Regions from separate parts of the Homo sapiens genome. Here region 2 is linked to region 1. The links come from fine-mapping of genetic effects on gene expression. A gene starts in region 1. The other region holds a variant in brackets. All regions are shown on one strand. Distances are from middle to middle.

Region 1 (15,811 bases):
GGTATTGTTCATGACAATTCCCTTCATTGTCTGTCTTTGTTGGTTTCTATTTTCTTGGTGAAAGATGATAATAAAGTAAAATGATTTTAATGATTAGTTCTTATTACACTATATCACAGTGTATTTCATGAAAAATTAACAAATAATGACATTAACAATTAGTGATCTCTGTCGGGCATGGTGGCTCATGCCTGTAATCTCAGCACTTTGGGAGGCCGAGGCAGACAAATCACCTGAGGTAAGGAGTTCGAGACTAGCCTGGCCAACATGGTGAAACCCTTCTCTACTAAAAAATACAAAAATTAGACGGGTGTGGTGGCAGTTTCCTGTAATCCCAGCTACTCGGGAGACTGAGGCAGGGAGAATTGCTTGAACCCAGGAGGCAGAGGTTGCAGTGAGCCAAGATCATGCCACTGTACTCTAGCCTGGGCAACAGAGCGAGACTCCATCTCAAAAAACAAACAAAAAACAAAAACAAAAAATCAGTGATCTCATTTCATTAGAGAGCTCTTAGTTATCTTTGTGTTAATATGAGCCACAGTTCAACTCATTCATGGGGCACTAGAACACTTATACTTAAGAGGTTCAAGGGATTACCACTTGGCATTAAGTTACAAGTGACAATAGTGTCCACTTGATATCGAGTTGTAACCATTACTGAACTATCACTCAGACAAAAGAAAATAACTAAAGATAAATATATAAATAATATATCTACATATTTTATATATTAATGCATTAACCCAAACTTCCAGATGACTTAAAAATAAGGCAAACACTGTTCAGGAGTTGATATTAGGAAAAGTCTTGAGATGAAACTTATTTTACTTTTGCAGAAGGGAATAGCCTTCACTCTCCAGGAGCAATAAGAATGTCCTAAGCACTTTGTAAATGTTACCTATATCACTCTCACTACAACCTTATGAGATAAAATTCATTGTTCCCATTTTACTGATGTTTTAGCCAAGATCATAAATTTCACTGGAGGCTGAGTTACCTGTGTCCATCTACCTTTCCAGACTTTAAATTTTCCCCTAGAATGAAAGCACTGGATCTAAAAGTAATGACACTATAAAATGCCTATAAAAGTATGCTTAGGGCTGGGCATGTGACTCATGCCTGTAATCCCAGCACTTTGGGAGGCCAAGGTGAGTGGATCACAAGGTCAGGAGTTTGAGACCAGCCTGGACAAGATGGTGAAACCCCGTCTCTATTAAAAATACAAAAATTAGCCAGGTGCGGTGGTTGGTGCCTGTAATCCCAGCTACTCAGGATGCTGAGGGAGGAGAATTGCTTGAACCCGGGAGGTGGAGGTTGCAGTGAGCCAAGATTGCACCACTGCACATTTCAGCCTGGGCGACAGAGTGAGAATCCGTCAAAAAAAAAAAGGTGCTTAGGAGTTATCTGAATGCTAGAGGTAATTCTAAGCATTCAGTTTTGGAACTGAGTAAGAGGAAGGGAACAGATTAGGCCCATGCCACTCAAAGAATGAGTTCACAAGAATGTAAATTAACTCTGTCACTGAGCACATTTTTCCCCATGGTGAGACTTTCTCAATGAAAAAAGCTGTGCATCAGTTTATATTCCAGTGCACATTTCTTTTTTCTTTCTTTCTTTCTTTCTTTCTTTCTTTCTTTCTTTTTTTTTTTTTTTTTGAGACGTAGTCTCGCTCTGTCACCCAGGCTGGAGTGCAGTGGCGCGATCTCGGCTCACTGCAAGCTCCGCCTCCAGGATTCACGCCATTCTCCTGCCTCAGCCTCCCGAGTAGCTGGGACTACAGGCGTCTGCCACCACGCTTGGCTAATTTTTTGTATTTTTAATAGAGACAGGGTTTCACCGCGTTAGCCAGGATGGTCTCGATCTCCTGACCTCGTGATCCGCCCCCCTCAGCCTCCCAAAGTGCTGGGATTACAGGCGTGAGCCACCGCGCCCAGCCTCCTGTGCACATTTCAGATCTTCACATGGACCAATAACAGTTTGAAAACAGTAACCAGTCCATGAACAAGGTTTTAAATGGCACAAACTTAAGAAGCTTATTATGAGATTTTCCTTTTCTGTGAGTATTTTAATCATTTTGGATAAGAGTTATCCTTAAAGTTATCCTATTTGATTTTTCATCTATCAAAAGAACAAGTCACATCACTTATTCACAATAGAGATAGTAATGAAGGCTAATGTCCTAAACCCTGTAAATCTATGGGGGCATTAATGTTAGTTGAAGTAATATTGCTAGTTTTAATAAGCCGATCTCTTCCAAAAGCAAAAAAAAAAAGTCTTCCTAAAAAATGAACAATATTGTCATCACACAGCATAATGGTTAAAGTGAAATATGAACTTTAAAAATATATTACTCATACCTGCACCTCCGCCTATGCTTAGAATCTTAATTTCTGATTTTGTGTCTCCAATCCTGAAAGAAAAAAATTATGTAGTTTTAGAAAAATGTGTTAGGTGCTTTGTGAAATCTGATTATCTAGTCTAGTTGAAGAGAACAGACTAAAAATACAATGAATGAAAACTAGGCCAACATGAAATGTCCCAATTATATCAGTTATATTGCCATCTTTAGAGTATATTTCAAAATATAGGTTTTATTCATTAACAATCTTTAACTGGGAGACTTGGAAATGGCAGTATGTACATATCAGAGGTACAAAATGCCATTTGTTTGGTTATGGCTTGGAGAACAAGAACAGAAAAAGTGGAGTTTTGAGTCTAGTCATATAATAAGCCACTCATCGTAGATAAAGGAAAGGCTCAGCTGGTTCCCACTATCTATAATGTTTGCCTTCTTTCCTCCCCCTTTTTTTAACCTTCCTTTTAATGAACAAGTGTTTATTAAACATGCATTATGTGTATTCTATCCTAGGCATTAAAAAAACAGATATCACTTTGCTCTCAAAATGAAATGTGAGATAATAAAGCCCGAATTATGACTCAGGTACTAGAAATAGAGTGGAGTGGACAGATTGGGAAATAAGCCAGTAGGACTTGCTGTTAGATTGATGTGAAGAGGTCAGAAAAAAATATGAATGCACAGTGACTTCCCTGTTTCAGGCTTGGATGACTGGGCAAAGGGTGATGCCAAAAAGGAAGCTGAGAAATACAGTTTGGCAGCAAGCTTATGTTTTGTCAGGGCTTTTAAAAAAAATAAATACGAATTCAGCAGACATTTGGATTTGCAAGATTTAAGCTGGGAGGAGAGAAATCAGGGTCAATGATGTATTCTGGAGAATCATCATCATAAAGTAATGGTCAGTGCTAGAAAAGTAGATTCCATCACCCAAAGATATTGCAGAGTTATAGTAGTAGTGGATGGTGATGCAATACCAACTTCTAAAGATCACTGGATTGTGAAGAATATACAAAGAAGACAGAGAAGAAAAGAAATAAAGCACAGAGAGGTACCAGAGTAATTGGAGGCAGAGAAAGCCCGTCGTCATGGCAAAAGCAGCAGAGTGTACTACTTAAAAAAGGAAAAATCTCCATCGAATTTGGCAATACGAGTGTCTTTAGTAATGGCAGTTGTAAAAGAAGATTGAAGACTGAAGTCAGATGGCAATGGGATTAAAACTGAGCTCAAAAATGAGGAAGCAGATCTAGAGTCTGTTGAAACAGGGTGAAAGAGAGAAGGAAAAGAGATGACTGCTGTAGGAGAACCATGAAGGGAAAAGGATGGTGTTTGTTTCTTTGGACTTTGGGATGGCAAACAAAACTGTGTTTTGTCTACAGTGCAAAAAGCCTGCTCAGTCACAGGATGGGAACAAAAATTGAAGTAAGGTTCTAAAGGAATCTTGCAAAGTCTAGGGTCGAGAACACCTATAAATGATTTGCCTTCTTCAATTCTAATTATCCTCCAACTCATAATCCTGAGTCCTAACACATCCATTTCTATCTACACCTTTTGTTCATTCTTTAAAATGCTTACATCTATGACAGCATAGGGAGGCTATGAAGCAGAGCACCCAAGTTGAAATCCCAGGTTACTGTTATGTTACCTTGAGCAAGTTATTTGACATCTCTGTGAAATAAGATAATAATATCATCTCTCTTGTAGGATTATTAATAACTGTTTCTAATTCATGGAGAAGTTGTGAGGATTCAATGATTTAATTCATGCAAATCTCTTAGAAATGTATCTGCACATGACAAGCACTCCACATATATTAGCAATTATTATGATTCTAGGTACATGTAAGTGATTTATGTGAATTAACTCTTTGAATCCTTGAAATTCCTCTATGAGTTAGATACTATTATTCATCCCATTTCACATATTATAATGACATCAAATAATTATTGAAAACTTACTATTTTCTAGCCAAGGATTTAAATGTTTTATATGCAACAACAATAACCAACTTTACTATTTATAGTTATTTACTATAATTTTTCCTGCCCCCAAGCCCTGCCCCACCATCTACCCTCAAATAGGGGATTGAAGAATTCCTCTATAGGGAAACAAATCATCTCAGTGATAAAGTTAACATGATTTTATATCTGAGGATCTCCCAGGAAAGAGCTGAGTCCACACTCAATTATTCAGTGAGCTACTCACTCAACAAACCCTGCCCTGACTTACACAAAGAGAATCTGACTACCTTTTAGTGCCTCATTATTTGATTGAATAGAAAACCAAGGCTCTTTAGGTGGTTGGGGAGCTGTCTAACATAAGAAACAGAGATGGAAAGAGGCAGAGAGAGCAGAGGAACATTTTGTAATGAATAAGAAGGTATTACATCTGGGAATGATGAAAAGAATGCTATAGAAAACATTCTTGGAAATTAAAAATATAATAGTAAAAAGTTAATACATGGGCTGAAAGAGGAAAGTTGTAGCAAACTGGAAATATAAGAAAATTAGGTAATCAATCCAGGAAGTATTTGATGAATAAAAGTTCCAGAAAAAGAAAACAGTGGTGAAGAATGATTACCAAAGTTCCGCATAACTGAAGGATCTGAATCTCAATTGAAATAGCCCAGGGAGTACCCATAAAATGGGTAAAAAGGAACCATTTCACAGCTCAGTATTTTAAAATTTCAGAATACTAGACGTAAGAAGATTCTAAAAAGTTCAAAATAGGGAAAACAAAACACATAGCAATGTAAAAGTTATTCCACATGCCAAGGATGAGAATTTTGAGTAGCATTTGATTTATTTTTTTCTCTTGTTTGAGACAGGTTCTCACTCTGTCATCCAGGCTGAGAGCAGTGTCTCAGCCATATCTCACTGAAGCCTCGATCTCTCGGACTTAAGTGATCTTCCCACTTCAGCGTCTGGAGTAGCATGTGCATGCCGCCTTGTTCAGCTAACTTTTTCACTTTTTTGTAGAGATGGGATCTTGCTATGTTGCCCAGGCTGGTCTCAAACTCCTAGGCTCAAGTAATCCTCCCGCCTCAGCCTCCCGAAGTGCTAGGATTACAGGCGTGAACCAACACATCTGGCCAGTATTTTATTTGTTAACAGCAATTCTGGTATCTAAAAGACAGTGGAAAAGTACCTTTAGATCTATTATACAAAACCATTTTCAGTATAGAGTTCTATATCCAGTCAAACGATTAACATAGAACCAAGGGATTTTTAAACATACAAAGTCTCAAAAAGTTTACCTCTCGTTCACTCTTAAAGTTCTTAAAGAATTGTTCAGGAAACAAAGGACCGAGGAAACAAAGAAAAGAAAGGCATGAGATATAGAATCAGGGAATCAAATAATGGAGAAAGAAAATGATTCTCAGAAAGTGAAATAAATTCCCTCCTTAATAGTTGTATAGCAGGCCAAAGCAGATCTTCCTAAACTGAAAAAAAGAACAGAGGGCTTCAGAAAAGTTGTTCCCTTGGGGTAAAATAAACAGATTCCTTGATATGTTTGCATATATTGAGAGGAGATTAATATATCTGCTTGGGGATCAAAATAGTAATAGGTACATGGAGAACTAAGAAAAGAAACCAAAATCAAGGCAATAGTCAACTCTAGGGAGAACAAAAAGTTGTACGTAAAAGGAAATATAAGCATAGTCGAATATATTGCTCAATTATTAAGAATATGTACATAGGCAAAATAACATAAACACTCAAATTATTTAACCAAAATTTTGACTACATATAGTGACATGATAGGGTGGGAAATATGCATGCTTACTTAGCTATTTTAATACAGCGAAATGAAGAAATAGAACAATAACATGTTATTTTGAATTATGAAAGAAAATTCCATAAATAACTAAAAGATTTCAAAGTGCTGAAAGTGGTTGCTTCCGGAGAGTGGGAATCAAGAATGGAGTGGGTGGGGTTTGTTATAGTCCCCACACACTTTAGAACCATTTGATGTTTTAAAATATGGCATGTCTTGCTTTAATAAAAATTTAATAGGCTCGCTCCACACTCAATTAGCACAGTGAGCCACAAACTCAACAAACCCTGCCCTAACATACACAAAGAGTATCCTAATCACATTTTGGTACTTCATAACTTATAGACAACTCTAAGTAACAATTTTAAAAGTCCTTCAGCTAAATCTTATTTCAAACATTACCTTCAGGAAAAAAATAAATGACACTGAATCTGATCATTCCTAACTATATACTACTGTTATAAGACAAACAGTGTGCCCTTAAAAATTCTTCAGTCTTTCACAGATTTTATAATATTTCCAGTTAGATTTAAACTTTGAAGATAAGGAAGGGGTCATTCATCATCGATTATGTTATCTCCATCCACGGTACCTCTTCAAACCAAACTGTGTATGGCTGAAGAAAACCAAGGATCTGGTAAGCTACAGACATGAGCAAATACTTTTAGTACTGAAAAAGAATTGAGAAATTAACTCATTACCTTTAACTTTAGAAATGAGCAAAGAAACCCAAAGAGGTTAACTATAATTAGTTCCTAGGTAAGAAGTTCTCTATATTTGCTATTTGCTTTGATGTTTGCATCCTTATCCTATTACATATTAATTTTTAATATATAATATCCTATTTTTTGAAAGCTAACATTTAAAATCTGAATCATGTTAAATAGAAAAGGAAATAAAATTTTATGTACATCTAATAATGCCTGCTCTGGTCAGACATAGGTACTGCCCTGGTGAAAGAATTTCAGGCCTGCAATAGAGAAATTCAGCAAAAGATAAAATACCACTTTCCTTTGCTGTTTGCAAATTGGATCCATAGTCATTTCTTCCCAGTTTTCCATTATTATTTCCTGAAGTAGAATGAGTTACAGCAAATCACCCCCAGATAGGTGATTTGATTATCTTTAGCATGTGGAATCTGTTACTCTCATAATGCTTATCAGCTCTGGCACAAATTGAACACATTAATCACCCAAAAAAAAGAACTCTGCAAGAAGGATAGGAACCAGTGAGTTTCACTGATAATGGGAAAATGGTTCTTTTTTTAAGGAACACATTGCTAATATTAAGCTGAAAGAAAAAGACAATTTTGAGGAAGAGAGTGATAACTATAACAATGGATAAGGAAAATTAATTTAAATGGATATTATGAGAACTGAGGCACTCAATCCTCAGGGCAAATCGTACTTTGGCAATTATTTATATTTGATTCTAATGAAAAGCATACCAGACTCCCTTTGGGACTTTTTTGGGATGTAAAATTTGGAGGAGGGCTGAAAAATCTGAGTTCGAAGATTAGCATCTTATCTTTTCCCAAATGAACATGGATTTGTGCCTTCAAATGGTTAACGCTTATCTCTATGCAGCTGGAAATACAACACAAATGGGAGCCTTTGAGTGTTCAAAGCAAACGTGGAACCAAAGCACTGCAGGAGAAAGGCAGGGCAGGGCAGCGAGGAGGGGACGACGGGGAGCTGCTATCAGTAATTCGCCCTTATCCCTGTGCCCAGCCTGCGAGGCTGAGCGAGACCCATCTATCACTGACGCACAGCCAGTCTGAGGCTTGTCCCTTTGACAACAACGTCCCTTTTGTTACCTTCCTATTATGCCTGGCAGCTTCTTGTCCATGAATTCCTGCATGCACTGGTGTTCCGTGGAATGGTTGAGAAACCTCCGGAAAGATTCAACATATTTCCCGTGGTCAGAAAACAAGCTCCTCATGGAAGATGCCATATTTGGTTTTCTGAGAAAGACAGAGCAGGAAGCAAGGTTTAAGTTCCCCTCCTTCTCTTCCCAGTTCCCTCTTTCTTTCCCCACCCCCACCAGTTTCTATCCAAAAAAAAAAAAAAAAATGCTAAGCTTGTTTTGAATTTAACATGCCACAAAGGCTGGCTTGTAGAGCTCATTACTGAGTCAATATTTGAACGGGACTTTGCACTGATACTTTAACCCCTATACGGTTGTTTTGTAAGAAATAGAAGTATTAAGCAAGGCTGTAAATCCACTGCTAAAACTTTTCAAATTCCTGAGGTTGAAAGGTCATAAAAACAAACTGTATTCAAATCACTTCCTGTTTTGTCAGCAAAGCCACAAGTAAGTTCCAAGTGGGAAAGTGACTGTTCGAAGTGGCAAACACCAGGATAAAGAGGACAGCTACACAGCACTCTCAGAAATCTACAGCAGTGAAATCTTTAACGGAAGACTGTCATCTGCCTCTGTGCTTTCTACGGGATTGTTTTGGGCCTTTACATTCCTCAGCACTTGAATTTTCAACTTATCTGCTGCATTTCTTCAAATGCTGATTTGTTGTAACTCAGAAATTATCTTAAAAGGAAGTCACGAAGGAGGAGCCCAAGAACTCGTAGCTAGAAGGTGTCAGAAGCTGCATTTAGGGGAATGAGAGTGGTAAGAGAAGTCTTGGAGCAAGAATGCAGGACACCAGGGTAAAAGTGCAGTCCATAGAATCCTTCCCTAAGCGCGCTGAACACGACGAGGTCATAGATACTTCGCTTGGCTGGATGAGCCTTTGGAAACCCAGTGGTGTCCCCACCAGAAGAGCCAAAGCTTCAGAGTACCCACACACAGTCTTTTTCCTGGGAAGAGGTCTTTAAGAAGGTCATCCTTTATCTAATATTGGGTTGTTAATAATAGCATCCAACTCATGGAGGAGTGCTGAGGATCAAATGAGTTAACTCATATAAGTCTCTTAGAAATATGTCTGCTTAAACCGTCCCTTCTTCTAATTGAGTTCCCAAGCTGCCCTCTAAGCATTCAAAACACTTCCCAACTCTCTTTTTTTTTTTGAGACAGAGTATCGCTCTGTCGCCCAGCCTGGAGTGCAATGGTGCGATCTCCACTCACTGCAACCTCCGCTTCCTGGACTCAAGTGATTCTCCTGTCTTAGCCTCCCGAATAACTGGGATTACAGGCACCCGCCACCACGCCTGGCTAATTTTTGTACTTTTAGTAGAGACAGGGTTTCACCATGTTGGCCAGGCTGATCTCGAACTCCTGATCTCAAGTGATCCACCCGCCTCGGCCTCCCAAAGTGCTGGGATTACAGGCGTGAGCCACCATTCCCAGCCCCCAACTCCCTTTTATAAGTATGTTTTGTTCTCACTATTCTTAGAGCCAGTGCTTTTACCCCGGGGGAAAGTGTAATATCTGGACAGGCAGATTGCCATGGATGACTCTGCCCTTAATGAACTGTCTGACTTTGGCTGAAACATAAGCTGCAGTTTGCTCATCAGTAAAATGGGAATGAATTTTATCTTATAGGGTTGTACTGAGAATAATATAACTAATGTTTAAAAAGTGCAAGCCAGTCCCTCTGCAAAAAAAATATATATATATAAAATGACAAAAACAGTCGTCACTTTATTCACGGACATTGAAATTTGAGTTTCATATCATTTTCACATGTCATGAAATATTATCCTTCTTTGAATTTACTTTAACCATATAAAAACATAAAAGTTATTGGTAGCTCATGGGCTGCACAAATCAGGTTGGTAGGGTTGGGTTTGGCCACAGGCCTTATTTGGCCAAGCCCTGATTTAGCTCCTGTGCCCTTCACTCATCCTTAGATAAGGTCTTTGCTGGTTCTTTACTCACATCTCTATCCAACCAGCCTTCCCTTTCCTCAGATGGGCTCTGACAAACTTTTGCTTCTATTACCATCTTCCATTTTTCTCTTTAGAGCTCAACCCAAATCATTCATTCATTCATGTGTAACATCTATCTGTTTTTGTTTCACTTTAACCAAAACCAAAAATGGCCAATAATGTATTCATCTATTGAATAAAAGTTTAGTAAGAGTCTCTGTTTGCTATTCTGCTGAGGAATACTCCTGACATGACTTTCTCTTGGAAAGCTGCTGTTAAGGCCTCCCTTAACTGAAACTTGGTCTTCTGAGACCATCACCTCCCTTGCCTGCTGTCAAATATTCTCCAACAGAGCCAGTTCTTCATGTGGATCCCAGTGAGGACTTCCTTTCCGTCTCCACTGTTTCCACCTTACTTGAGATTCTCTTTATTTTTCACTTATTGTGCTTTTTTTTAAAAAAAAATTAAGTTCAAGAGTACATGCACAGATTTGTTACATAGGTAAACATGTTTTATTGGGGCTTGTTTTACAGATTATGTCACCACCCAGGTATTAAGCCTAGTACCCATTAGTTATTTTTCCTGATTCTCTCCCTCTTCCCACACTCCACCTTCAATAGGCCCCAGTGTGTGTTGTTCCCATCTAATGTTTCCATATTTTCTCATTATTTAGCTCCCACTTATAAGTGATAATATGCAGTATTTGGTTTTCTGTTCCTGCATTAGTTTGCTAAGGATAATGGCCTCCAGTTCCATCCTTGTCCCCACAAAAGACATGATCCCATATTTTTTATGGCTGCATAGTATTCCATGATATACATATGTCACATTTTCTTTGTCCAGACTATCACTGATGAGCATTTAGGTTGATTACATGTCTTTGTTATTGCATATAGTGCTGCAATAAACATTTACATGCATGTGTCTTTATAACAGAACAATTTATATTCCTTTGGGTATGTACCCAGTAATGGGATTGCTGGGTTGAATGGGATTTCTGTCTTTTGGTCTTTGAGGAATCGCCACACTGTCTTCCACAATGGTTGAACTAATTTACACTCTGACCAACAGGGTATAAGTGTTTCCTTTTCTCCACAACCTTGCCAGCACCTGTTATTTTTTTACTTTTTCATAATAGCCACTGTGACTGGTGTGAGATGGTATCTCATTGTAGTTTTTATTTGCATTTCTCTAATGATCAGTGATGTTGAGCTTTTTTTTATATGATTGTTGGCTGCATGTATGTCTTCTTTTGAAAAGTGTCTATTCATGTCCTCTGTCCACTTTTTCATGTCTTTTTTTTATTCTTGTAAATTTGTTTAAGTTCCTTATAGATAATGGATACTAGATCTTTGTCAGGTGCATAGTTTGCAAAAATTTTCTCCCATTCTGTAGGTTATTTATTCTGTTCATAGTTTCTTTTGCTGTGGAGAAGATCCTTAGTGTAATTAGATCTCATTTGTCAACTTTTGCTTTTGTTGCAATTACTTTTGGTGTCTTCGTCATGAAATCTTTGTCCATGTGTATGTCCTGCATGGTATTGCCTAGGTTGTCTTCCAGAGTTTCTATAGTTTTGGGTTTTATATTTAAGTCTTTAATCCATCTTGAGTTAATTTTTATATATGGTGTAAAGAAGGGATGCGGTTTCAACCTTCTGCATTTGGCTGGCCAGTTATACTATAGTGTGTGTGGTTTTTTTTTTTATTGGCTTTCCTGCTTTAGGAATCACACAGATCCTAACCAATTTTATTGCCACTGTCAACTTCATGTTTTTTTTTAAGTAAGTTTGGATAAAGACACTCTTTTCTTTCTCTCATAATATTTAGTCTCCCCACTGACCCCCACGTCAAGTACAAGATCCATTCTGTAGCCCCCCCAATAATTATCCAGAATTGTGTCTCATTTACCTCTAGTTTGCATTTATATCCCCTTCAAACTGTGCTGCTTCTCTGGATACATTCCTGTGCTTTTTTGCCTACAGCATCTCCTCATAATAGTCCCTTCTGTAACATGCTGCTTCCTTTCTTACCGCATCCATTGAAAAATTTTCTATTCTTCATATGCTACCACTTTCATATAGCCTTCCATATTTCCCTCAAAATAATCAGCACTCACGCTCGTAATTTCTGAGATTCTTGCAAGCATTCATCCTTGTGTTATTGTTGTTTAATATATTTGCCTTAACTCCCCTGCTTGTCCCCATGTGACTTAGCTCATAAAGACAGGAACTGAGTCACAGCTACTTCCCGTGATGTGTTGCCTGAAGTAGACTTTCAGTTCTTTTTTAAATAATTAAGAATATGCTTGAACATTTACACTATTGAGTTGTTCTCTGCTATCAGATGTCCTCCATCCTTTTCATTATTGAGTAGCTCTATATGTTACCAATAACACCAGAATTCCATTTATTGAGCACTTACTATGTGCCAGGAATTGTACAGATCTTTTCAAATTTAATGTAGGATTTACTCTTTGTGGTACCTCCATCAGCTTCCCCCTATTACAAATGAGAAAACCAAGTTTCTGAGAGATTAAGCTGCCTAGCCAAAAACTGCAGGACTGCTGTTGAATTATAGTCTGTCAAACCCCAGGACTAGCACTCTCACAACAATTTTTTATTCAGCCAAAACCTGCTGCCCTATAATTCTTAGATACTACTCCTATTTCTGGTTGCTTAAACTAAACAGAAGTAATCCAGTTCTTTCTCCATATAACAACCATTAAGAAACTTGAAATCAACTGTCAGGACAACCTTACTCCCCAGGTGTCTCTTTTATAGTTCCTAACTATTTATTCTACAATATAGCATTATATAATTCATTACTCTGGCCCCTCCTTTGGAAAGATTCTAGTTTGTCTGGGTTCCTTTAAAAGATGATGTTTGAAAATAAACACAATATCCCCAAAGCTACATAAAAAGTGGAGATTTATTTTCCAGGCATATACTAGTGTTTCCCAAAGTTATGCCCAACCCAACTTCTTTCAGATTTTACTCTGCAAAAAATGGGTTCCATGGTCAAATAATTTAAAAAGTGCTGAATTCAGTAGCTTCCTCTGGATATTCATAATGCACATTAGTATATTAAAGATTCATAAAACCTTTGTCACATGTCCTCTTCAGATGCAAATATATCATGGCGATGACATTTCTCTGATTAGTCTTGCAGCCCCTCAAAAGAAAAAAAAAAGAGGAAATCTTGTTGCTTTCAGCATGTTTTGTGTTTGATTAAGTGCTGGTTTCAGCAATCACAACTTCCTTTTAAAATTGCATATAGAATATCTGTTTCATAATCCATACTGCATCTGGAATTTCCTTCTAGCTGGCTGGTTGGAATTACTGAATCTTGAAAATCTTTTTTTCCCTTTTTTTTGGAAAATTGAAGCAACAATCTACCACATCTATCATTTGCCATGACTTTTCAAAAGTTACCAGCAGTGACATCAGTATTACTTTTATAAGTTCTTTCAGCACATTGAAATGTAATTTTTTTAGACCTTAAATTATTGCCTAATTTAAAATTCTTATTTATTTTCTTACCTATTTTGGGCATCCATCCCCTATTATATATCAATTATTAAGCTGTTACTGTGTCAAAGCACCTTATATACTTCTAACACTCTGGGGGATGGAACTATTGACACCATCAAGTGAGACTCAGAGCAGATAAATAGTTTAAGACCACATAACTCCTAAGAGAAGAGCCTCGGTCCAAATTAATGTTTGATTCCAAGGCTCATTTAAAAAATTATGCCATATTACCTCTCACCACTCTGTGTCTTTCCAATATGAAGATTGTTTTGGAGCAAAATATAGGAGCAAAGAGAAAGATAGAAGCAAAGAGAAAGTGGAATAATTCTGTGTTCTTTCTATCACCTTTTAATAGAACACCATCTGTGCTAGGTCAAAAAACAAAGGCTTTCCCTTTTTCATTTTTCTTCTTCTGTATGTGGTATACCAAAAAATAAACAAATGAACAAAAGAGAAGAAAAAACAGTAGCAAAGTCTTCAGGACCCATTTTCTTCTACACAGCATTGTTCAGATATTTCTATTCATCCTGGTCTTTAGTCTTCTGAACACCATGCTCATTGGTCTAGCTTCTTATTCTTATGTCCCATCATCTAAGTAGCATACTACATAGGTATATGTTAACAGCAATATTGTTAAAATATCTTAGTCAAATAGGTCAAAGAATCACATTTTCTTTTCACTTGACAAGAATGGAGGAAGACGTATTTTATACAAATTGGTTGATTTACTTGATCTGCTAGCTTATTTGAAAGTTATCAGGAAGATTGACCCAAGTGTGGTCTCAAAGGAAGGATTGGAATTATAGCACATAAAATTTTAGAGCTTGATTAGACTGGTAATTTCAGCCAAATATAATAGGCATCAGGAATCTTACATTCTACAGGAGACTTAGATAAGTTTCTCATAAATATGGAAATAAGAAGCAAGAAAATGGAATGCTATACAAGCCTAGCCTCTTACTAGGTAAATCTGCTCTAAACTTTTTTTTCCATATATAAAAAAATGTGGAAAGATGAGAGGTGAGATGATCTTTAAGTTTTCTTGAAGTTCTAGTTAAATGCCTTCCATCTTTTAAAAAGATAAATTTTTGTGGGCTTGTGAAACTAAAAGTAGTTGTATATATATTCATAGCTAGTAGAGCCACTGTATCTAAAGATTGTCAATAAATCATAAATGATAACCTAAAGATAGTCTCTGGGTAAGCAGCCCCTTGACATCGTGTTATTAGGCAAATTTACCAATGTGAGTTGCTTAAGGTCACACAGCTGGTAATAATGCCATGTATCTTGTTACTATTAATGACTTAGTTGTTTCAATTATGCTTTATTAATGTGGAGTTTATAATAGTTTTGTTTTAATTAACTTAAGAAAGGAAAGGCCCAAAATACCCAATCAGGGACAAACCAAACCATCTTGTGATAGAGACAAAATACTTGGAGGATAATTAATTGAGAAGGAAGAGAGCAGATGGACAGACAAATCCTGTTAAAAGACATAAAGAGTAATCAGTGAAATTCTAGCGATATAAAGCTATTTTGAAATATTTAAGGATGTGAACAAAGAATAAGGCACAACAAAAAAGAAAGAGTCTGTGAACTAACTTTCCTTTTAATAATCAAAAAAAATTTTGTCACCTTGAAAGTACTAGATCTCCTCTCAAAGGTAAAGGTCAGTAAGTATTTAGAACCTGGAAAATTAGCAAGAACTGGACAGCTATCAAAACAAAAAATCAAACCAAAATCCAATAATACAATTCATGAAATGAGCTTTTGTCTTACTGTCCATGTTACAGATGATGCAATCTTCAGTGACTACCGTAAGGGGTAGCACCAGTGTGGAGGTGGGGATCTGGTGAAGGGAAAAGCTTCATGTAAAAGGAATTTTATAAACAGAGGGGTTGTGGTAAGCAAACTTCTCTGGCATCTGGTGAAGAAGTATGTGCTCAATATACCAAAAAATTGCTCAATATACCAAAAAATATAGTCTATCAAATCCCAGGACTAGAACATTCTCCTGGGCTAGAACATTCTCCTGTCTGAGATGCCTTGTAATATGATTTGGCTGAGCCTTATTTTCTCACCTGTGAAATAGAGATAATAATTCCTACCTCATAAAAATTTGTGAGGATTAAAAGAAATAATGTGTATCAGGTTTTCAGCCTAGTGCCTGGCATATAATAAACTCTCTGGTGTGAGGTTGACATCTTTAACTTTCAGTTCCTTCATTTATGGGATGAACACAATAATGCTGTATTAGTCAGGTTTCAATACAAGTGGCAAAATCTCTGTCCAGGATTCCAGAGATAATTTTTAATATGGGTAGCTCAT
Region 2 (15,811 bases), 31 kb before region 1:
AACGAATGGTCTGGGAGAGATTGCAGGAGTGGTAAGGAGACAGGGGAGTTATGAAATAGTTATGTGAGGAAGTGGGAACAAAAGCAAGTCTGGTAGAGAAATATCTTGGCATCCTGGACAGTGATAAGTACTACCTGACAGGCAAAAGATTTCATCAGCTAAAGAAGCAGAGACATAGAATTGCCTGTATATGACACAATTGGAGTATTTCTTCCTTTGACTTCTTGTAAGTTTATTCTTTTGGGGTGATTATCATTGTAGACCAGGAAGAAAAATAGTGTTTTGTCGTTAATCAAGTGGTATTGCCAAAATACGTACATTTCCCGTTGGTAACCAACTTCCAAAACCCATACATCCCTTATGCTATTCAGAAATGTTAGTTATCTCTGGAAATCCAGCCCCATGCTATCTACTCAATAGTCACTCCCTTTCTTTTATTATTATTATTATTATACTTTAAGTTTTAGGGTACATGTGCACAATGTGCAGGTTAGTTACATATGTATACATGTGCCATGCTGGTGCGCTGCACCCACTAACTCGTCATCTAGCATTAGGTATATCTCCCGATGCTATCCCTCCCCCCTCCCCCCACCCCACAACAGACCCCAGAGTGTGATGTTCCCTTTCCTGTGTCCATGTGTTCTCATTGTTCAATTCCCACCTATGAGTGAGAATATGCGGTGTTTGGTTTTTTGTTCTTGCGTCACTCCCTTTCTATAACATGTATGAGTCAGTTTGTCGGATCTGGATAATGGAAGTAAAAATTTATTGAACTGAGGCATCATTTAACCTGCCCCTTCGACCATATGTCCACTACAGAAACACTCTGGGACATTGGTCCACCCAAACCATTAGAGCCACTAGAGAATATGTTATGATGCTATCATTCTCAAATCTCTATATAAACATCCAATGATATAAAAATAAATTAAAGACTGGGTGCAGTGGCTCACACCTGTAATTCCAACACTTTTGGAGGTTGAAGAGGGAAGATCACTTGAGCCCAGGATTTCAAGACCAGCCTGGGCAACATAGTATGACCCCATCTCTACAAAAAATAAAAAATTAGTTGGGTGTGGTGGTGCACACCTGTGGTCTCAACTAACCAGGAAGCTGCAGTGGGAGAATTGCTTAAGCTCAGGATTTTGAGGCTAGAGTGAGCTAAGATCATGCCACCGCACTCCAGCCTGGATGACACAGCGAGACTCCCATCTCAAAAAAGAAATAAGAATTAAGCCAACATTTTTAAAAATGGATAACTTGTAGAGGTATTTTGATTAGAGAAAACTGGTTTTTGGAATGTTAAAGAGAATCTTAGTATAATAAACATCTTTACCTTTTATTTGGGCAGATCATGGTCACTTGTAAAATTAGAAATCAGAAGATTTTCATTTACCTTTTAAAAATTAGAATAGTAGATATTCATTATATATATATTCTGAAAAGTCTTCTTTCTGAGTATATATTATAATACATATTTCTTACTTGAATCATATGAATAAAGTCCCACTTTTGAAGCTCCTTTTTCTCCAACATTCTACTTTGGTATTCAGATGATGTCTCCTTATGCCAAGCAAACTTTACGTTCTCGAGGTTCGATGTCTTGGCTACAAGCTCTAAAATACAGAGAAGAGGTGACACACCATCAATTTTAATTGCAAATGTGGAAACCATTTCCATTTAGAATTTTAATGCAATCAATGTTATATACAAACAGATAGAAAGAACGTTTTTCTTTCTTATGTCTGGGAGACCAGAGAGTTCATACTGCTTTTTTTGGTTTCTAGTATTTAATGAAATTAGAGGTGAAAGAAAGAGTCAGGAAGAAATAATTACAAGAACCCTGGGCAGAATAGGTTATATTGTCTTAGTATTAATGAAGAATCAACTGGTGAATTTTATCAATGGAAAGTGAATTGGAAACAGATATGTTTGTATAATTCAGGAGAAGACAAACTACAGTCCAGGGACTATATCTAGCCTGCTACTTATTTTTGTATGAACCGCAAGCTAAAAACATATATCGTTCTACTTCCTGACTTTGTGTCACTGCCATTCATGTTTCACGTCATTATATTTTTGAATGATTTAAAAAAACAAAAGAAGGATGCTAATTCATATGTGAAAATGATATGAAATTCAAATTTTAGTGTTTACAAATAAAGTTTTATTCAAACACACCCATGCTTGTTAGTTTACCTATTTTTCTTTTTGGCTGCCTTTGTGGCACATGGCAGGTTGATTAGTTATGGCAGAGACTGAATTGACCTTCTGAATCTAAAATATTTACTATTTGGCCTTTGCCAGGAAAAGTTTGTGAACTTTTACTGTAACCCACTAAACATAAGCTCTTTAAGGTTGGTTTAAATAATTCTGGATCAATGAATGAATCTGTACTTAAGCATAAACATCAAAAGGTAATCATTGATGACAACTGGGGAATGGATGAAGTGTTAATAGAAAAGGGAGTTTATTATTCACTGTTCACATTTTGAGATGTTTAGTCATGCCTGCCAAGAACTAATTCAGTTCTTCTCCCAATAAGCTTGTGAAAAGCATACCACAGTAACTATATTTTTAATCATTCAAGGGAACAATTTGAGTTAAGTCTTTTGGGATAGGATCTGGTGTAGAGGACCAGGAGTTACAGGTACCTTTGTATTTGGCAATTTGTTCAGCACTTGGCTCAACAACTTCATTGTTGATACAAACTCCTGGGTATTGAGCCTGAACTTTGGAGAGAATTTGAAGATCAATTTCACCTAGAAGATAAACATATGGGACAGGTCACATCATTCCAGCAAGAAATGATTAAAAACAATTTTAGCTGATTTATTATCTGCCCTACCTTTACTAGGAAAGCCTAACATAAATAAAGAATAATGTTCAACTGCTGCCCTGCCATGATGCAGGGCAGCTAGGTTCTAAGTAGGCATAGTAATGTGACTCAAGGAGGGCTGTGAGTGCCATCCATTCGTTTACATGATCTTTAACATCTATCACTATATTTCATCAAATCAAAGATGCTGTTGATTGTAGAAGGAAATTAACCCTTATTTTTGTTTCACCAAGTTAGAAAAAAGCCACTGTCAATTAAAATTTTAAGATTTTTATCAACTGGAGAGCATAACAATATCAGAGGTATTAAAATACGAAAAAAAAATGCACCTCAGAACTGGCAGAGTAGGCTAGGCCAGAAGAGTACAAAAAAATGTCAGATTAAATAAAGGGTACAAGCATATGTCAGGTAAAATAAAGAAGAAAAACATGTCAGATATCTGCCCTCATAAACACTATTACCTGTTCACAGACACAGAAATAGCCCTGGCTCAGTTGAATCAAGGTAGGAAGAGGGAAGAGAACATATGGGGAGAGGACGAGAGATGATGCCAGAGTGATGATGCTTCATGGGGGAAGATCACTCATGAACTCTGTCACTCCCAGGGTAAGTGGGAGTTAGCCCAGAAACTGTGGGGAAGTGAGGGATTGCAGGTACAGGGGACAAGATGACAGATGCACACACAGAAAATAAAAGAGTATATTTGGAACTACTAGCAGTCTAGATTTCTTAGAATATTGAGCAAGGCAGGACTTCCAAGCAAGAATCCCTGCCCTGGTGAAAATTCAGCCTGTAAGGGTTAGTGTAAGAGAGATGACAATAAGTCAGATGGACTTGAGTTTTAAACCTGTCTTCTTCACTTACTCGGTGTATACGACTTTGGGCAATTTGCTTTACCTCTCCAAGCTTCTTTTTTTTTTTTATTAGAAAAATAAAAATAATAATAGTACTTAATTTATTAGTTGTGAGGGTTAAATGAAGTAATGCATATAATGCACAGTGCAAAATAAAGTTGGCAGTGAATAAATGTTAGCTGTTCATTATTTTTATTGTTATCTTGAGTACATCTATTTGAAAATATCTCTTCTCTCCCTCTTGCTGATGCCTCCAACTTATGTTTTGCACTTTTATTCAGTTAGGTTATGATGTTGACCTTCACTAAAATGGAAATACCTCCTGGCAAGATTAGCATAGGAAAATGATGTTAGTCTTTAACATTTGGCATAAATGACATTAGCAGAAACTTTCCAAGGCTGCACATAGCAGGAAGCAAAAGCAGAGGTCATAAGACTGGGAGGTCTGGAAGGAAAGAGATGAGGAAGATAAACCAGGAACAGAAGATGCTAGACTGGGAAAAGACAGTGGTCCAGGTGCATATGAGAGTCCCAAGTACTGACAATAGGAGATGGCGTACATGGTGTGTGTGGAGGGAAGGAGGGAGAGTGGGAAGGAAGCTGAAATAGAGTATGAAGTCACTTATGTGACAATTTTCTTCACAGCCAGCCCTACCTACTTGAAATCATGTATTTCTTCACTGATGACTATAGCTGCCATTTATTATTGGCCACCTACTATTTGCCAAACACTGTGCTAGGCTTTTTACCTGGAACATCTCATTAATCCTGACAGCAAGTTCCATGATATTATTAATATTCCCAACTGGATTAGGTGATTTGAGTATGTTGACATTCAAGGGATATTGATATACCTGAAGTTTAAGTCACATTTGTCTAAATCTACAATGTTTATTCTTCTAACTCATTCAACTAAGAAGTAGAAAGATCACAAATGCTAAAAAGACATGAAAAGCCTTTTATTCTTCTGTTCAGCAACTATTCTGAAGGGAAAAAAAGACAACTAAGACAAAAGGCTGGTAAGAATAGCTGTGGGCTAATGGGAAATAGATTCCAGCTTGCCCCCAAAAGACTAGAGACCAAAATTTTCTGTTCTTGCCTCATATTAACCTAGCCATACATTTTAAATGAAAAATTATCAATTATGAGGATCTCAAATTCGACATTTTGAAAAAGATAACTGAAATGCAATTATATCCCCTCAGGGCTTGATGAGCTCTCCTCCAAAGATGGACCTTGACATTTCAGGTTGGCCTGGTTGGCAAAATATATCTAGCACAGTCTGGGACATGTTCAGAGCCAGGCAGTCCCTCTCCCTGGGGCACTGATAGAGGACACAATGCTAGAATCACAATTGACATATGGAAACCATTGGTTTGCATAACAGCCTCTAGAGTATAAGCTCATGTGTGCTGGATTCCTGACAAAAATAAATTAAGTTTAAGAAGAGGTGATAATGCAACTATTTCCTTAAGAGTCAATTAGAACGTAAAATCTATTTCTGACCTCATAAGTAGGGTGACCATACTTGTTTGTCAGGGACATTTCCATTTTATACCTGTTGACTTAGTGTCCATCTGCTTTCGTTTTTTGGTCCTAACTTGTTCATTTTTAATAAAATATCATTAGCAGAATTTTAGTTTTGGAAGTAGTTTTTAAAAAAGAACATTTCATAAATTTACTAATATGAGAAATTTGTTCAATGCATACAAATTTCAAAAATTATAATAATTTTAATTATTTTACCTACTCTTTCCAACTAATTCTCTAAAGTACCCTACATTGGACAATAAATAATACCACTGTGCTCATAGGCGATTACATTCTGTGCTTTTTTTTATTTCTTCTGAGAAAGAATGGAATATATATGCAGAATGTACAGGTTTGTTACATAGGTATACATGCACCATGGTGGTTTGCTGCACCTATTGACCTGTCTTCTGTGTTCCCTCCCCTCAACCCCAACCCCCAACAGGCCCTGGTGTCTGTTGCTCCCCGCTCTGTGTCCATGTGCTCTCATCGTTCAACTGCCACTTATGAATGAGAACATGCGGTATTTGGTTCTCTGTTCCTGTTAGTTTGCTGAGGATGATGGCTCCCAGCATCATCCATGTCCCTGTGAAGGACATGAACTCATTCTTTTTTATGGCTTTACAGTATAACATGGTGTATATGCACATTTTCTTTATCCAGTCTATCACCGATGGGCATTTGGGTTGGTTCCATGACTTTGCTATTGTAAATAGTGCTGCAGTGAGCATACATATGCATGTGTCTTTATAGTAGAATGATTTATATTCCTTTGGGTATATACCCAGCAATCCCATTGCTGGGTCAAATGGTATTTCTGGTTCTAAATTCTTGAGGAATCTCCATACTGTCTTCCACAATGGTTGAACTAATTGACATTCCCACCAACAATGTAAAAGTGCTCCTATCTCTCCACGGCTTTGCCAGCATCTATTGTTTCCTGATGTTTTAATAATTGCCATTCTGACTGGCATGAGATGGTATCTCATGGTGGTTTTGATTTGCATTTCTCTGATGATCAGCGATATTGAGCTTTTTTTCATATGTTTGTTGGCCACATAAATGTCTTCTTTTGAGAAGTGTCTGTTCATATCTTTTGTCCAGTTTTTGATGGGGTGGCTTTTTTTTTCTTATAAATTCATTTAAGTTCCTTGTAAATTCTGGATATTAGATCTTTGTCAGATGGGTAGAGCACAGAAATTTTATCCCATTCTGTAGGTTGCCTGTTCACTCTGATGATAGTTTCTTTTGCTGTGCAGAAGTTCTTTAGTTTAATTAGATCCCATTTGTAAATGTTGGCTTTTGTTGCAATTGCTTTTGGCATTTTTGTCATGAAGTCTTTGCCCATGCCTATGTCCTGAATGGTATTGCCTAGGTTGTCTTCTAGGGTTTTTATGGTTTTGGGTTTTACATTTAAGTCTTTAATCCATCTTGGGTTAATTTTTGTTATAAGGTGTAAGGAAGGGGTCGAGTTTCAGTTTTCTGCATATGGCTAGCCAGTTTTCCCAGCACCATTTACTGAATAGGAGATCCTTTCCCCGTTGCTTGTTTTTGTCAGGTTTGTTGAAGATCAGATGGTTGTAGGTGTGTGGTGTTATTTCTGAGGTCTCTGTTCTGTTCCATTGGTCTATATATCTGTTTTGGTACCAGTA[C/T]CATGCTGTTTTGGTTACTGTAGACTTTTAGTATAGTTTGAAGTCAGGTGGCATGATGCCTCCAGCTTTGCTCCTTTTGCTTAGGATTGTCTTGGCTATATGTGGTCTTCTTTGATTACATATGAAATTTAAAATAACTTTTTCTAATTCTGTGAAGAATGTCGATGGTAGTTTGATGGGAATAGCATTGAATCTATAAATCAATTTGGGCAGTATGGTCATTTTCATAATATTGATTCTTCTTATCCATGAGGATGGAATGTTTTTCCATTTGATTGCATCCTCTCTTATATCCTTGAAAAATGCTTTGTAGATCTCCTTGAAGAGGTCCTTTGCATCCCTTGTTAGCTGTATTCCTAGGTATTTTATTCTCTTTGTAGCAACTGTGATTTGGAGTTTATTCATGATTTGGCTCTGTTTTTGTCTATTGTTGGTGTAAAGGAATGCTTGTGATTTTTGCACATTGATTTTGTATCCTAAGACTTTGCTGAAGTTGCTTATCAGTTTAAGAAGTTTTTAGGCTGAGATGATGGGGTTTTCTAAATATACAATCATGTTGTCTACAAACAGAGACAATTTGACTTCCTCTCTTCCTATTTGAATACCTTTTATTTGTTTCTATTGCTTGATTGCCCTGGCAAGAACTTCCAATACTATGTTGAATAGGAGTGGTGAGAGAGGACATCCTTGTCTTGTACTGGTTTTCAACAGGAATGCTTCCAGCTTTTGCCTATTCAATATGATATTGGTTGGGTAAGTTTGTCATACATAGCTTTCATTATTTTGAGATATGTTCCATTAATATCTAGTTTATTGAGAGTTTTTAACAAGAAGAGTAGTTTAATTTTATCAAAGGCCTTTTCTGCATCTATTGAGATAATAATGTGGTTTTTGTCTTTCGGTCTGTTTATGTGATAGATTATGTTTTTTGATTTGTGTATGTTGAACCAGCCTTGCATCCCAGGGATGAAGCTGACTTGATTGTGGTGGATAATTTTTTTTAATGTGCTGCTGAATTTGGTTTGCCAGTATTTTATTGAGGATTTTCCCATCGATATTCATCAGAGATACTGGCCTGAAGTTTCCTTTTTTTTGTTGTGTCTCTTCTTGATTTCGTTATCAGGAAGATGCTGGCTTCATAAAATGAGTTAGGGAAGAGTCCCACCTTTTCAATCATTTGTAATAGTATCTGAAGGAATGGTACCAGCTCCTCTTTGTATTTCTGGTAGGACTCAGCTGTGAATCCATCTGGTCCTGGGCTTTCTTTGGTTGGTAGGCTATTAATTACTGCCTTAATTTCAGAACTTGTTATTGGTCTATTCAGGGATTCAACTTCTTCTTGGTCTAGTCTTAGTAGGGTGTATGTGCCCAGGAATTTAACCATTTCTTCTAGAGTTTCTAGTTTATTTGTGTAGAGGTGTTTATAGTATTCTCTGATGGTAGTTTGTATTTCTGTGGGGTCAGTGGTGATATCCCCTTTATCATTTTTTATTGTGTCTATTTGATCCTTCTCTCTTTTCTCCTTTATTAGTCTAGCTAGCAATCTATTTTGTTAATTTTTTCAAAAAACCAGCTCCTGGACTCATTGATTTTTTTTTTGGAGGGTTTTTGGGTCTCTATCTCCTTTAATTCTTCTCTGATCATAGTTATTTCTAGTCTTCTGCCAGCTTTTGGATTCATTTGTTCTTGCCTCTATAACTCTTTTAATTGTGATGTTAGGGTGTCAACTTGAGATCTTCAGGCTTTCTGATGGGGGCATTTAAGTGCTATAAATTTCCCTCTTAACACTGCTTTAGTTGTGTCCCAGAGATTCTGGTATGTTGTCTCTTTGTTCTTGTTGGTTTCAAAGAACTTCTTGATCTCTGCTTTAATTTCATTATTTACCCAGGAGTCATTCAGGAGCAGGTTGTTCAATTTCCATGTAATTATGTGGTTTTGAGTGAGTTTCTTAATCCTGAGTTCTAATTTGATTGCACTGTGGTCTGAGAGACTGTTATGATTTCAGTTCTTTTGCATTTGCTAAGGAGTGTTTTATTTCCAATTATGTCGTAGATTTTAGAATAAGTGCCAAGTGGCATTGCGAAGAATGTATATTCTGTTGATTTGGGGTACAGAGGTTTGTAGATGTCTACTAGGTCCACTTGATCCAGATCTGAGTTCAAGTCTTGAATATCCTTATTAATTTTCTGTCTCATTGATCTAATACTGACAGTGGGGTGTTAAAATCTCCCACTATTATTGTCTGGGAGTATACCTCTCTTTGTAGGTCTCTAAAAACTTGTTTTATGAATCTGGGTGCTCTTGTATAGGGTGCATATATATTTAGAATAGTTAGCTCTTCTTGTTGAATTGTTCCCTTTACCTTATGTAATGCCCTTGTCTTTTTTGATCTTTGTTGGTTTAAAGTCTGTTTTGTCAGAGACTAGGATTTCAACCCCTGCTTATTTTTTGCTTTCCATTTGCTTGGTAAATTTTCCTCCATCCCCTTATTTTGAGCCTATGCATGTCTTTGCACATGAGATGGGTCTCCTGAATACAGCACACTGATGGGTGATGGGTCTTGACTCTTTATCCGATTTGTCAGACTGTGTCTTTTAATTGGGACATTTAGCTCATTTACATTTAAGGTTAGTATCATTATGTGTGAATTTGACCCTACCATCATGCTGCTATTTGTTTATTTTGTACACTAGTTGTTGCAGTTTCTTCATAGTGTCATTGGTCTTTATATTTTGATGTGTTTTTGCAGTGGCTGCTCCTGGCTTTTCCTTTCCATCTTTAGTGCTTCCTTCAGGAGCTCTTGCAGGGCAGGCCTGGTAACAACAAAATTCCTCAGCATTTGCTTGTCTGGAAAGGATTTTATTTCTCCTTTGCTTATGAAGCTAGTTTGGCTGGATATGAAATTCTAGGTTGAATTTTTTTTTTCTTTAAGAATGTTGAATATTGGCCCCCAATCTTTTCTGGCTTGTAGAGTTTCTGCTGAGAGGTCTGTCAGTCTGATGGGTTTCCCTTTGTAGGTGACCTGGCTTTTCTCTTTGGCTGCCCTTAACAATTTTCTTTCATTTCAATCTTCAATCTGATGATTATGTGTCTTGGGGTTGAATTTCTTGTGGAGTATCTTAATGATGTTCTCTGTTTTTCCTCAGTTTGCATGTTGGCAGTCTTGCTAGATTGAGGAAGTTCTCCTGGATAATATCCTGAAGTGTGTTTTCCAGCTTGTTTCCATTCTCTCCATCTCCTTCTTGGACTCCAATCAATTGTAGGTTTGGTCTTCTTATGAAGTCTCATATTTCTTGGAAGCTTTGTTCATTCCTTTTCATTCTTTTTTCTCTAGTCTTGTCTTCAGACTCTGATATTCTTTCTTCCACTTGGTTGATTCATCAGTTGATACTTGTGTATGCTTCAGGAAGTTCTCGTGCTGTGTTTTTCAGCTCCAACATGTTGTTTATGCTCCTCTCTAAACTGGTTATTCTAGTTAGCAATTCCTCTAACCTTTTATCAAGGTTCTTAGCTTCTTTGCATTGGGTTAGAACATGCTCCTTTAGATCAGTGTAGGTTTTTATTACCCATATTTTGAAGCCTACTTCTGTCAATTTGTCCATCTGATCCTCCCTCCAGTTCTGTTACCCCGACGGAGAAAGGTTGAAATCATTTGGAGGACAAAAGGCACTCTGACCTTTTGGGTTTTCAGCATTGTTTCATTGATTCTTTCTTGACTTCGTGAGTTTGTCTAGTTTTGGTCTTTGAGGCTGCTGACCCTTGGATGGAGTTTTTGTGGAGACTTTTTGTTGTTCTTGTTGTTGATGCTGTTGTTGTTGCTTTCTGCTTGTTTTTTTTCTTTCAATGGTTAGGTCCCTCTTCTGTAGGGCTGCTGCAGTTTGCTGGGGGTTCACTTCAGGACCTATTTATCTGATTCGCTGCTGTGCCTGGAGATGTCACTCAAAGAGGCTGGAGAACAGCAAAGATGAGTGCCTGCTTCTTCTTCTGGGACTTCTGACCTTGAGGGGCACCAGCCTGATGCCAGTAGGAGCACTCCTGTATAGGGTGTCTGACAACCTCTATTGGAGGGTCTCACCCAGTTGGGTGGCATGGGGAACAGAACCTGTTTAACACAGTGCCTCACTTGCGGGGAACCCACTTGTCTGGGCTGCCTGGATTCCTCAGAACTACCAGGAGGAAAGGCTAAGTCTGCTGGTCCACAGAGACTGCAGCCATCCCTCCCCCTAGGGACACAGGACCAGGGAGATGCAGGTTCTGTCCCTGAGCCTCTGGCTGGTGTTACTGGAGTTGGTGGGGGAAGCCTCACCCAATGAGGAAGGATGGGTCAGGGTCAGGCCTGAAGAGGCACTCTGGCCACAGACTGCAAGCAGATGTGTTGGACTGTGAGGGACAAGTCTTGGGACCAAGCCGTCCAGCCTCCCTGTCTCCAACAGAGGAAAAGCACAGCCTGGGGCTATAGAGATGGATGCCTCCCTTCCCCTGCCCAGGGAGCTTTGTGTTAGGCAGATGCAAATCCCAGTACTGGCTGCTGCTCCTCCCACAAGGAGCTCAAATAGCTTTGACAGCAGGCAGCCACACCCAGTTCTGGTCACCCCTCCCTCCAGGAGTTCCGTAGGCTTAAGCAGATTCCTTCCAACCGAGAAGCTAAGAGTCTGTGCATTCCTGGGTTGGGACGCTAGTCCCTGGTGGTGTGGGTTCACGAGTGGGATCTTCCAATCTGTGGGTTGCACAATTCTGTGGAAAAAGCACGCTCACCCATTGCCTCCCTTGGCTGGGGGGGAGGGGGCTCCCCCACTCCATGTGGCTCTCATGTGGGCTGCCACACCACACTGTTCTTCTTTCTCTCCGTGGGTCACACCAACCTCCTAGTCAGTTCTGATGAGAGAACCTGGATGCCTTGGTTGCTGGTGAAGTATTCACAAGCTTATGTTTTTTTTCAATGGGGGCCTCCAAACGCTGCTGTTTCTAGTCGGCCATCTTGGCCCCGCCCTGTGTTATTTTTATAATAAGTATAGTATTTCTTATTGTGATATATATGTAATAAATAATACAATTATCTACTTCTATATCTAGCTATATAAATATCTACTTCTATCTATTTACATACATATATGTATCTTTATAGAAATGTGTGTATATGCATAGATCGATATATGTGTGTGATATTATTTTATATATCTATATGTTTTTATCTATGGCTCCTGGCTTATGATTCCCATAGCCCTTGTTAATAGTCTTTTATTATAATTTTATGGTGCTTTTGGCCTCAGGAGCAGACCTCAGAAAACCTTTCACCTATACAAGGCAGGACTATAACGTGTTTCCACCTTTGTGATTGAGGGTCATAAGACCTCATTTCAGAGGAGGTCCTGTCCCATATCCTAGAGGAATTAATGCTGCACAGAGAGATCAAGAAGAATCTGAACAGATAGGCCTCACTGGGTTTTCCCACTCAGCCTATCAGCATTAGATTATAACCTTTTCATCCAATCACATTACTACATGGTTGTCCATGCTTCAGTCATGCCTATCCAATGAAGTTTTCATAAAAGGCCCAAGAGAACAGGATTTGAAGAGCTTCCAGATAGTGAACATGTGTAGGATCCTGGCAGGTGGCATATCCAGGCAGAGCATGAAAGCTCTGTGTACCTTCTCTCATACCTTACCCTATGCATCTCTTCATCTGTAGCCTTTGTAACATCCTTTATCATAAACCAGCAAATTAAGCCAGTTTCCCTGAGTTCTGTGAACCACTTTAGTAAATTAATCAAACCCAAAGAGGGGTTGTGGAAACCTCAACTTGAAGCTGGCTACTGAGAAATTCTGGAGGCCCAAACTTGCAACTGGTGTCTGAAAGGGGACAGTTTTGTGGGACTGAGCCCTCAACCTGTGGGATCTGACATTATTTTCAGGGAGACAGCATCAGAATTGAATTGAATTGGAAGATACCTGGAAGTATCTGCTGCTTGGTGTTGGGAGAAAAAAAAAACTCATGCATTTGGTCACAGAAGTCTTCTGTGTTGATTGTTGTGGTGTGAGAGCAGAGGAAAAAGTTTGAGTTTTTCCCTCAGAACATATACATATGTATGTACATATAAATATGTGTGGGTATATATACATATCCATAAGATATAAAATCATAAAATAAAATATTCCTTGACATTGTATTCTACATGATTTGCTTTTCAGTATCCCTCAGAAATAGCAGACATGTATTTTTAAAAAATAATTTATACCCATAATCTGCAATATAATATGGAAAGAGAAGAATAAAGTTGGAGAACCGACACTATCTGACTTCAAGACTTACTATAAAGCTATATGAATCAAAACAGCCTGGTAATGGCAAAAGAATAGACAGATAGATCAGTGGAACAGAATAGAGAGACCAGAAATAGACCCACATAAATATAGTGAATTGATCTTTGACAAGGGAGCAAAGGCAATACAATGGAGCAAAGATAGTCTTTTCAACAAATGGTGCTGCAACAACTGGATACCCACCTGCAAAAAAATGAATCTAGACAAGGACCTTACATCCTTCACAAAAATTAACTCAAAATGAATCATAGAACTATGTGTAAAACATAAAACTGTAAAATTCCTAAAATATAACACAGAGGAAAACCTAGATGACCTTGGGTACGGCGATGACTTTTTAAATAGAAACCAAAGGCATAATCTATGAAATAAGTAATTAATAAGCTGAACTTTATTAAAATTAAAAACTTCTGCTCTACAAAAGAAAATGTCAAGAGAATGAGATGACAAGCATGAAAGAAAATAATTGAAAAGAGCATATCTGATAAAGGATTACTATCCAAAATATACAAAGAACTCTTAAAGCTCAACGATAAGAAAACAACCAGCCCAATTAACAATTGGGCCAAAGACCTAAACACCTCACCAAAGAAGATATACAGATGACAGATAAATATATAAAGAGATATTTCATATCATATGCCATCAATGAAATGCAAATTAAAACATTAACAAAATACCATTACACACCTGGAAGGGCCAAAATCCAGAGCACTAATGACAACAAATGCTGGGAAAGATATGGAGCAACAGGAACTCTCATTCGCTGCTGGTGGGAAAGGTAACTTTGGGTCCACTTTGGAATACAGTTTGGCAGTTTCTTAAAAGACGAAGCATAACCTTACCATATGATTCAGTAATCAAGCTCCTTGGTTTCTACCCAAAGGAGTTGAAAACTTACAGTCACACAAAAATCTGCACATAGATGTTTATTAGCTTTATTCATAATTGCCAAAGCTTGGAAGTAACCAAGATGTGTCCTTCAGCATATAAACTGATAAGTAAAAGAACAAACAAACAAAGAATCTGTGGTACATGCAGACAATAGAATATCATTCAGTACAAGAAAGAAATGAGTTACTAAGCCATGAAAAGACATGGAAGAAACTTAAATGCATATTACTATCTGAACGGAGCCAATATGAAAAGGTTACATGCTGTGTGATTTCAACTAGATGACATTCTGGAAAAGACAAAATTATGGAAACAGTGAAAAGATCAGTGGTTGCCAGGGGCTGAGGGGTGGATGTGAAGGGGTGGAGCATAGATGATTTCGGGGACAGTAAAACTACTCTGTATAATACTGTAATGGTGGATACATGTCTTTATACATTTGTTTAAACCCGTGGAATACAACACCAAAAGGAAACCCTAAAGTAAACTATGAGCTTCTAGTAATTATATGTCAATGGATGTTTATAAATTGTAGCAGATTGTAATTCTGGGAGGGAATATATATATAATGGGGAGACAATGCATGCTTGAGAGCAGGGGTTGTATGGAAAATCTCTGTACCTTGCTGTCAATTTATCTGCAAACCCTAAACTTCCTTTAAAAAACCTTTCTTTAAAATAAAACAACAATGACAAAAATATTTATTTTTATTTTTTTGAAACAGTCTTGCTCTGTTGCCCAGGCTGGAGTGCAGTGGTGCAATCTCGGCTCACTACAACCTCTGCCTCCCAGGTTCAAGCGATTCTCCTGCCTCACCCTCCCAAGTAGCTGGGATTACAGACACGTACCACCATGCCAGGCTAATTTTCATATTTTTAGTAGAGACGGGGTTTCACCATATTGGCCAGGCTGGTCTCGAACTCTTGACCTCAAGTGATCTGCCTACCTTGGCCTCCCAAAGTGCTGGGATTACAGGCGTGAGTAACCACGTCCGGCCAACAAAAAGATGTATATAATCCTCTTGCCTGTTTAAAAAAAAGGGGGGTCAATAGTTCAGATCTGTCATATTATAGTCTTGTTTAACCATTTAACATTTAGTTTTAAAGTATTATCTTTTCTTGAAACATTCACCCATGCTGTTTGCTATCCATCATCACTCAAAGTTTCTTCTTCCTTTATCTTCCTTTCCTGGCCATCAAGAAGTTTACTTTCTCAATTCTGTCCCTACTAGCTGTGCTCTTATTCAGGTCAAGATTATTCACATTTGGAATACTGCAATAATATCCTAAAAGGTCAGCCTACCTCTGGTCTTGTATTCCTCAAAGCACTTACCATGATAACCATTTTAAACCCTGCTAAGCAAACCTATCACTTCCCTGCTTAAAATCTTCTAGTGACTATAAAATGGATGAAGGTCAAGCTTCTCCACTAAACATAGACTATCTGGCCTGGTCCTTATTCTCATCACTCACAGTTTTATATTCTGAATTTTGCGGCTCCAGGAGCCCTGAATTGCTTGCATTCTACCCTCTTTCCTTTACGTACCATCCTCTCCCATGCTTTCTCCTCTGCCTAAAAAGGTCTCCCTCACTTCTTCACTTCAGCTGGCTAACTCCTACACATCTAAAACTCTACCACTCATAGCTGGTAATCTTAGTGGTCTTTCCCACAGAGCCCAGAAGCAGCATGAGAATCTTCCAGACACTAACTACCCATCA

What was found. PIP is the estimated chance that this variant, and not a neighbour inherited with it, causes the effect.
Region 2: its variant is fine-mapped to the expression of HNMT in whole blood (TOPMed, PIP 0.92).

The regions. Positions count from the first base shown.
Region 1 is chr2:137,956,764-137,972,574 of GRCh38, reverse strand. It overlaps HNMT (histamine N-methyltransferase), which reads right to left and starts at 8,102. Exons shown (of 6, transcript NM_006895.3): 1 at 7,947-8,102; 2 at 2,358-2,410. The coding sequence starts at 8,083.
Region 2 is chr2:137,987,872-138,003,682 of GRCh38, reverse strand. It overlaps HNMT (histamine N-methyltransferase), which reads right to left. Exons shown (of 6, transcript NM_006895.3): 3 at 2,658-2,765; 4 at 1,489-1,619. Among named protein-coding and RNA genes, the nearest start is that of HNMT, 31 kb to the right of the region's middle. The variant C/T (reference allele first, on the strand shown) is at 6,879.